Linked DNA regions of Homo sapiens. The protein of the gene in region 1 interacts with the protein of each later gene in a biochemical or structural test. Each region holds a gene or a part of one and is shown in the gene's direction. Other genes may lie near its edges.

Region 1 (3,556 bases):
CCTGCTTGCTGACCCCGCTTGCTGCTGCCTGGCTGGCCTGACTCAGCCACGGCTGTTCCGAGGGCCCTTCTGAGTACGAACTTCCAGTTGGAGGATCTGGGTGAAGACCCAGCTGCTTGAGATAGCAGCCTCTGGCTAGGCCCTTGGCGTGGCCAAGCCAATCAGGCAGGTTTAGAGCCTGGTGCCCCTAGACAGGTCCTGCAACCAAGAACAGGGGTAGCCTTCAAAGGCCAGCCCTGCCTTCCAACCACCGCTCCACAGCGAGGGAAACCAAGGCTCTTAGGGCAGGAGGCTTGTCCGAGATTAGCACCTGCGTGCTCCAGGCTCTGAGTTCTGTCCCCTCAGCTGTCCGGCCCCTGGGTGCTCACTTTAATCTCAAGTCATTCATCTTACTATTAAACGTGAGCCCAGAAATATTGTTGTAATGGAGAACGATGCCTGCGAGTCTCCAAAGCCTTCCCTCGGAACGGTTCCATTAAATCTCTCCTGCTCAGAACCACCCAATCCAATTCATGGAGCGCCACGTGGTCTACAGCACAGCTGGTTAGGGCCAGCGGAGGTTTATTTATAGCTGGGCTCCTGGCTGCCTGGTAACCGGCCATTGCCACCTTTAAAGAGTCTTGGGATATTATCTACCTCTATTCAGCTTGAAATCGGGCATGCAGTGCCTTGGGCTGGGGCTGGCGATAATTAAATTTCTATCATGCACAATTATGGATGCAAAGAATGAATGACATCCCACTGGCATGTGAGGATTCGGGCAGCTTCTGGACTGAAATACAGACTTCATAATTGCTCCATCCAGATTGGGACAAAGACTGTGGTTGGGAGAACATGCCTGAACAAAGAAAAATGACTCTGCAGGACCAAAGTTCTTGACACTGATTGATCTGCCAAAAGGGGAAGAATGAGTCCAGCTAGAATCCAGGACTAACCAGCGGGTGAGCTTCAAGGAACAAAGGGCTTCCGCTGGGTCAGCCCACGAGAGGGAGCTGCCTGCAGGTACCTGGGAGGGCACAGCCACCGTGTCTGTTCCTTGGGAGCAGGGCTCCTTGGAAGGCAGCGCCAGCTCCAGAAAGGCCACTGTTCCCCCTCCCACCCACCCCAGGTGGCAACTGCCCCTGCAGGTCACGGTCCCAGGGCCTCGCTCGGCCGGCCTAGAGAGAGAAAAGGGAAGATGCCCAATTAGCTGGACGCCCATGGCCCCAGGGCTGGGGGACCTTGGGTTATCCTGAAAGAAGGACAATGACCACCTGCAAAGGACGATTTCAAGTGGAGCCTGGAGGAGGCGGCAAATAGCTCAGTCCGCACTCAACTCCCTTCCCAGCCGTCTGGTGGAAGGTGAGGAGCAAAAGCTCATGCTGCTGAGGCCTGGGGCCACCCAGGCACCGGCCTCCCCGTGCTGAGCAGAGACAGCAGCCCCCTAGCTGCAGGAGTGTGCCCCGATGCGCACCTGCCGACTTTCCTTCTGATGCAGACATGGTCCCCACTGGGGCAAGGCTGCAGTTTTCTTTTAAAAAACAGATCTTTCAAAATAAAAGGGGCCTTGAAGAAAATCGTGGAATAAATAACAGTCTGGGGTGGAGGCGGTTCTGGCGAAAGTGTCCTGAGGGTGGTGTGTGATGGACGGGACTTTGGGCAGTGCTGATGGGGCCTTGCCTGTCACTTGAGGCCTCCAGGAGAGTCGAGGACTGGCAGATCCAGGTCCAGAGCAGGTGCAGGCTCCCAGCTCTTCCAGCCCCTTACCTCGCAGTAGGTTCCCACAGTTCTAGCCTCCTTGATGCCAGCCCCAGGGTGCCCACTGCTGGCCAACTATGTCCTTTTCCTCAAAACCAGGTCCCTCGGTGCCCAGGGTGAATGGGTATATGAGCCTGGGTGTGGGCACCCGGGGTCTGGGACACCGAGCAGACCTCTCTGGCTTGGAGATGTGTGCGGTGGGAAGAACAGGGTGACCTGAGCTCTCCCGGTGTCACATTCTCCACATCTGAGCCCTCTTTGGGTGAGGCCCTACTTCCAGCACACACAGCTGTCCCCATTCGTCTTCAGGAATAACTGACCCTTGAGGCCAGACAGTGGCTGTGAAGAGCAGGGGGACCGCCTGACCGTGACCCCCAAGGACAGACGCTGGCCCTCTTGACGGACGAGATGACCAGGGCCAAAGGCGGCAACATGGGGGCCCACGCTGACGGCAGCATCTCACACCTGGATGTGTTTCTGTGGTCCACAGGTCTGTAGGAGGTGGAACTGGTTAATTTAAAGTCAGGTTGGGGTTGTTGTTAGAAAGGGTTCCTGCTCCCACGAGAAACCAAGGATGAGTGGTGGCTGCACCCAGTCTCCATCCCCATGAGCACCCTGCGGGGTGTTGGGACCCCCAGGCCCGGGCCACACACCTCTCTCTTTCAGGGCCGTCTCTCCCTGTCTCTCCAGACCTGCTCTGGGTTCTTCCTTCTAGAGCTTCCCAGTGGGTTGCCGGAGCTGTCTGGGGTTATGTGGCTTGCCTAAGGCCACACCGATTGGGGCCTGGCACCAAAGTCCATTAGTATTTCTGTGACAGCAGCCATCTTTCTATGTAAGACGCTTATTTCATAAGAAATGCCAGCATCTCTTGGAGTCCTTCTGAGGAGGCAACTGCATACGAACATCGCCTCTGTCTCGTGCTGTGACCCGGGGAGAGACTGTGGGCAAAACCCAGTGGCGTCCGAGGGTCTGTGTGGCCCCGAACTCTTAGTGCTGACAGCAACATGAAATAATGAAGGCACAGGGCACTCTGTTCGTGCATGTTAACTTGTGTAACTAGTGCACGTTAATCACATTAACTAGCCATGTTAACTAGTGACGTAGATTAATAATGATGAATCAATAGGAATGAGTCCTGTATACTGACGGATATCCGGGCGATAGGATTCTTCAGCGAGGCCGGGGAAGAAGCAGACTGTCACCTTTGGTCTAAAGTTGGTGGGTTAAGTGGTGGGAGGTGCTCAGGGCAGGTGGCAGGAAGGGGAGAGCGTTCCAGATGGGGAGAACCTATTTGAAAGGCAGTGGACATCTTCCCATGTGCATAGAGAGGACGGGTGGCCACTGGGCGAGATTGCACTGGGGAATGGGGCTTGTGGACATCTTCCCGTGTGCATAGAGAGGACAGGTGGCTGCTGGGTGGGATTGTACTGGGGAATGGGGGGGCCCTATGGATATCTTCCAGTGTGCATAGAGAGAATGGGTGACTGCTGGGTGAGATTGCACTGGGGAATGGGGCCCGTGGACATCTTCCTGTGTGCATAGAGAGGACGGGTGACTGCTGGGTGGGATTGTACTGGGGAATGGGGGGGCGCTATGGATATCTTCCCATGTGCATAGAGAGAATGGGTGGCTGCTGGGTGAGATTGCACTGGGGAATGGGGCTTGTGGACATCTTCCCGTGTGCATAGAGAGGACGGGTAGCTGCTGGGTGGGATTGTACTGGGGAATGGGGGGGCCCTATGGATATCTTCCAGTGTGCATAGAGAGAATGGGTGGCTGCTGGGTGAGATTGCACTGGGGAATGGGGCCCGTGGACATC
Region 2 (3,749 bases), on another chromosome or scaffold:
TCCTGCTGAGGCCCAAGCTGGGGGAGCATCCCCTCTGAAATTCTACCCAGCCTGCTTTGCCCAGGTCTTACCTGCATAGAGCCAGATCCTTGGGTTGGAATGGTAGCACCTGGCGTTCATTAGTGTTTGTTTGGCTGTTGATGCCATGGCTGGCTCTGTCCCCAGGCTGGAAGCCCCTTGAAGGCAGAGCTCAAGCCTGACCTCCCTGCGTTGCTGAGAACAGACCTGGTCCATATGAAGTCTCCAGAAAAGGATATGGAAATGCCTGATTCTCTTTTTTTGTTTCCCTCCAGGAAGACATTCTGGATGAGTTACTGGGTAACATGGTGTTGGCCCCACTCCCAGATCCGGGACCCCCAAGCCTGGCTGTAGCCCCTGAGCCCTGCCCTCAGCCCCTGCGGAGCCCCAGCTTGGACAATCCCACTCCCTTCCCAAACCTGGGGCCCTCTGAGAACCCACTGAAGCGGCTGTTGGTGCCGGGGGAAGGTGAGTGTCAGCTGCAGGCTGGGAGGGCTGAGGTCTGGGCGGCAGCCCCTGATTCTCAACCCCTCTCCCCTTCATGCCGCTGCTGCCGCTGCTCAGAGTGGGAGTTCGAGGTGACAGCCTTCTACCGGGGCCGCCAAGTCTTCCAGCAGACCATCTCCTGCCCGGAGGGCCTGCGGCTGGTGGGGTCCGAAGTGGGAGACAGGACGCTGCCTGGATGGCCAGTCACACTGCCAGACCCTGGCATGTCCCTGACAGACAGGGGAGTGATGAGCTACGTGAGGCATGTGCTGAGCTGCCTGGGTGGGGGACTGGCTCTCTGGCGGGCCGGGCAGTGGCTCTGGGCCCAGCGGCTGGGGCACTGCCACACATACTGGGCAGTGAGCGAGGAGCTGCTCCCCAACAGCGGGCATGGGCCTGATGGCGAGGTCCCCAAGGACAAGGAAGGAGGCGTGTTTGACCTGGGGCCCTTCATTGTAGGTGAGTGAGACAGGGGCTTCGACCTGGCCAGTACAAAGCAGCCTGCACAGTGGTTAACAACTCAGGATTGGCCGGGCACGGTGGCTCACGCCTGTAGTCCCAGCACTTTGGGAGGCTGAGGTGGGCAGATGACAAGTTCAGGAGTTCGAGACCAGCCTGGTCAACATAGTGAAACCCCATCTCTACTAAAGATACAAAAAAATAGTCGGGCGTGGTGGCACGTGCCTGTAATCCCAGCTACTCGGGAGGCTGAGGCAGGAGAATTGCTTGAACCCAGGAGGCGGAGATTGCAGTGAGCTGAGATCGCACCACTGCACTCTAGCCTGGTGACAGAGTAAGACTCCATCTCGAACAACAAAAAAAAAAGAACTCATGATTAGGACTGAATTCAGACGCTGGCTGCCCTTGGCCCGCTGTATAACCGAGGCAAAGGACTTTGCCCTGAGCCCGTGGAATCCAAGGATGGTCTCCTCTCTCTACCTGCCTGCCAGCGCTGGGGTGAGACACAGGCCCAGTACACAGAGCCTGCTCAGGGAATTAGCTGCCACTGTCATCATCATCGTAACTAATGATGGTGAACAGACCAATAGCAGGAAAGCTACATCCCTTAGGGTTTCGCTGTGCAGTGGCACTTTCTGCCATGATGGAAATGACAGTCACCTGCACTGTCCGGTGCAGCAGCCACTAGCCACAGGGGCCAAGCACTCAGGTGAGGCGAGTGCAACCAGGACGTGATTCGTTTTAATTGGTTACAATTTAAACTGAAATAACCTTACATGACTAATGGCTGCAATTGGACAATGCAGCCTCAGACAGGACTGAATGCCAACCAGCTTCTCCAGATTCACTGAGCATCCTTGGGAGCATGGGCCCCCTACTCTGGGCCTGTTATGAATGCTGAGGCTTGGGGGCTTGGGGGTGTGGCCTTCCAACAACCCCACCCTGATGGGAGGGAGGGAGGGAGGGAAGGAGGGGACTTTCCCCAAACAAGCAGTCCCCTGGTCGAGGCAGCAGAGGGCCTTAGGTCAGGGGAGGTGGTGGGGGTTATCATTCAAGTTTACGGGGAAGGGTGGGTAGAGGGTCCTCTTCTCATCCCTGACTAGGCTCCTGGGCCCCCAGATCTGATTACCTTCACGGAAGGAAGCGGACGCTCACCACGCTATGCCCTCTGGTTCTGTGTGGGGGAGTCATGGCCCCAGGACCAGCCGTGGACCAAGAGGCTCGTGATGGTCAAGGTGCCTGCAGACCTGAGTCCCTGGGGCTGAAAGGGGTGGCCTTACAGAGGGAAGAGGTTGCTCCCAGGAACTCCAACTCCCAGAGGGCCCTCTAAAAAACTGCAACTTCCAAGATCTCTGCAATAACCAGTTTTTCATCCCCGGGAGCTCCTTCCCATGGCCTCACCTGCAGAACCTGTTTTGAACTCTCTAAACCAGTGGCCCCCAAACTATTTGGCACCAGGGACCAGTCTCATGGAAGATAATATTTCCACGGACAGGGAGGTGTGGTTTCGGGATGAAACTGCTCCACTGCAGATCATCAGGCATTAGATTCTCTTAAGGAGCAGCCGATCCCTCACGTGCGCAGTTCGATAGAGTTTGTGCTCCTCTGAGAATCTAATGCTGCCGCTGATCTCACAGAAGGCAGAGCTCAGGCAGTAATATTCCCCCACCCGCTGCTCACATCCTGCTGTGCAACCTGGTCCCTAACAAGCCGTAGGGGGGTTGGGGACCCCTGCTCTAAACCATGTAGAAGCTGGTGGACTCAAGTTTTAGCTGCCATTGTGAGGCCATGGCTGTGGCTCCCAGGAGTCAAGATCACAGACTGCTCAGCCCTGACGTGTGTGTGTGTGTGTGTTTGTGTGTGTGTGTAAAACTACAACTCCCAGCAGCCCTAGGCCTATGGTTCAGTTACAGCAGGGGGTGTGTGTGTGTGTGTGTGTGTGTGTGTGTGTGTGTGTGTGTGTAAAACTACAACTCCCAGCAGCCCTAGGCCTATGGTTCATCCTAGGTTACAGCAGGGGCTGCAGGGAGTTGTAGTCCTCCAAGCCCTGACTCCTACCTTGGTGGACAGTGGCTGGGTGTTTTCCCTGACTCCTGTCCCCACTTCCCCTGCAGGTTGTGCCCACGTGCCTCAGGGCCTTGGTAGAAATGGCCCGGGTAGGGGGTGCCTCCTCCCTGGAGAATACTGTGGACCTGCACATTTCCAACAGCCACCCACTCTCCCTCACCTCCGACCAGTACAAGGCCTACCTGCAGGACTTGGTGGAGGGCATGGATTTCCAGGGCCCTGGGGAGAGCTGAGCCCTCGCTCCTCATGGTGTGCCTCCAACCCCCCTGTTCCCCACCACCTCAACCAATAAACTGGTTCCTGCTATGATCACTTGTGCGTGTCTGGTGTTGGGTGCCCTCTGACCCAATATGGTTGTTATTCCCGCTCAGGGTCTCAGTTTACCCATCTGTGCAGCTATATACAACTCAGGTGCTCAATGCATGAAGACCAAGCACTGCAGGGGGCAGCTGACACCTCCTCACTTCTGCCCAGGGACCTGGTGGGTGATGGCTGTCCCCGTGTTGTAGACCAAGACACAGGCTGGGAGAGGCGCAAAGGTCACAGAGTAGGAAACACAAAGACTAGCCAGAACCCAGGCCCCCTGCCTTGCCTATGAACAGTTTGGGCAAGTGGTCCTTCTCCTTCCAGGCCTCAGGCTCCCCTCCACGTGGGGCTGGAGGGGTCTTGGTAAAGGGGCTCTGCGGCCACCCTGGAGCCTGCAAAGCCTGCCTGCCTGG

What was found. The genes of interacting proteins can lie anywhere in the genome.
Region 2: of the proteins of FAM20C (region 1) and IRF3, one has a biochemical effect on the other in vitro, tested with the Homo sapiens proteins (one large-scale study listed by IntAct).

What each region holds. Positions count from the first base shown.
Region 1 is NC_000007.14:199,128-202,683, forward strand, and holds part of FAM20C (extracellular serine/threonine protein kinase FAM20C precursor), read left to right. Parts: exon of another isoform or gene 1-1,556; intron 1,557-3,556. UniProt on the Homo sapiens protein: Golgi serine/threonine protein kinase that phosphorylates secretory pathway proteins within Ser-x-Glu/pSer motifs and plays a key role in biomineralization of bones and teeth.
Region 2 is NC_000019.10:49,659,162-49,662,910, reverse strand, and holds the end of IRF3 (interferon regulatory factor 3), read left to right. Parts: intron 1-293; coding exon 294-486; intron 487-582; coding exon 583-963; exon of another isoform or gene 964-1,461; intron 1,462-2,066; coding exon of another isoform or gene 2,067-2,082; coding exon 2,083-2,198; intron 2,199-3,077; coding exon 3,078-3,263; coding exon of another isoform or gene 3,264-3,322; 3' UTR 3,323-3,339; downstream 3,340-3,749.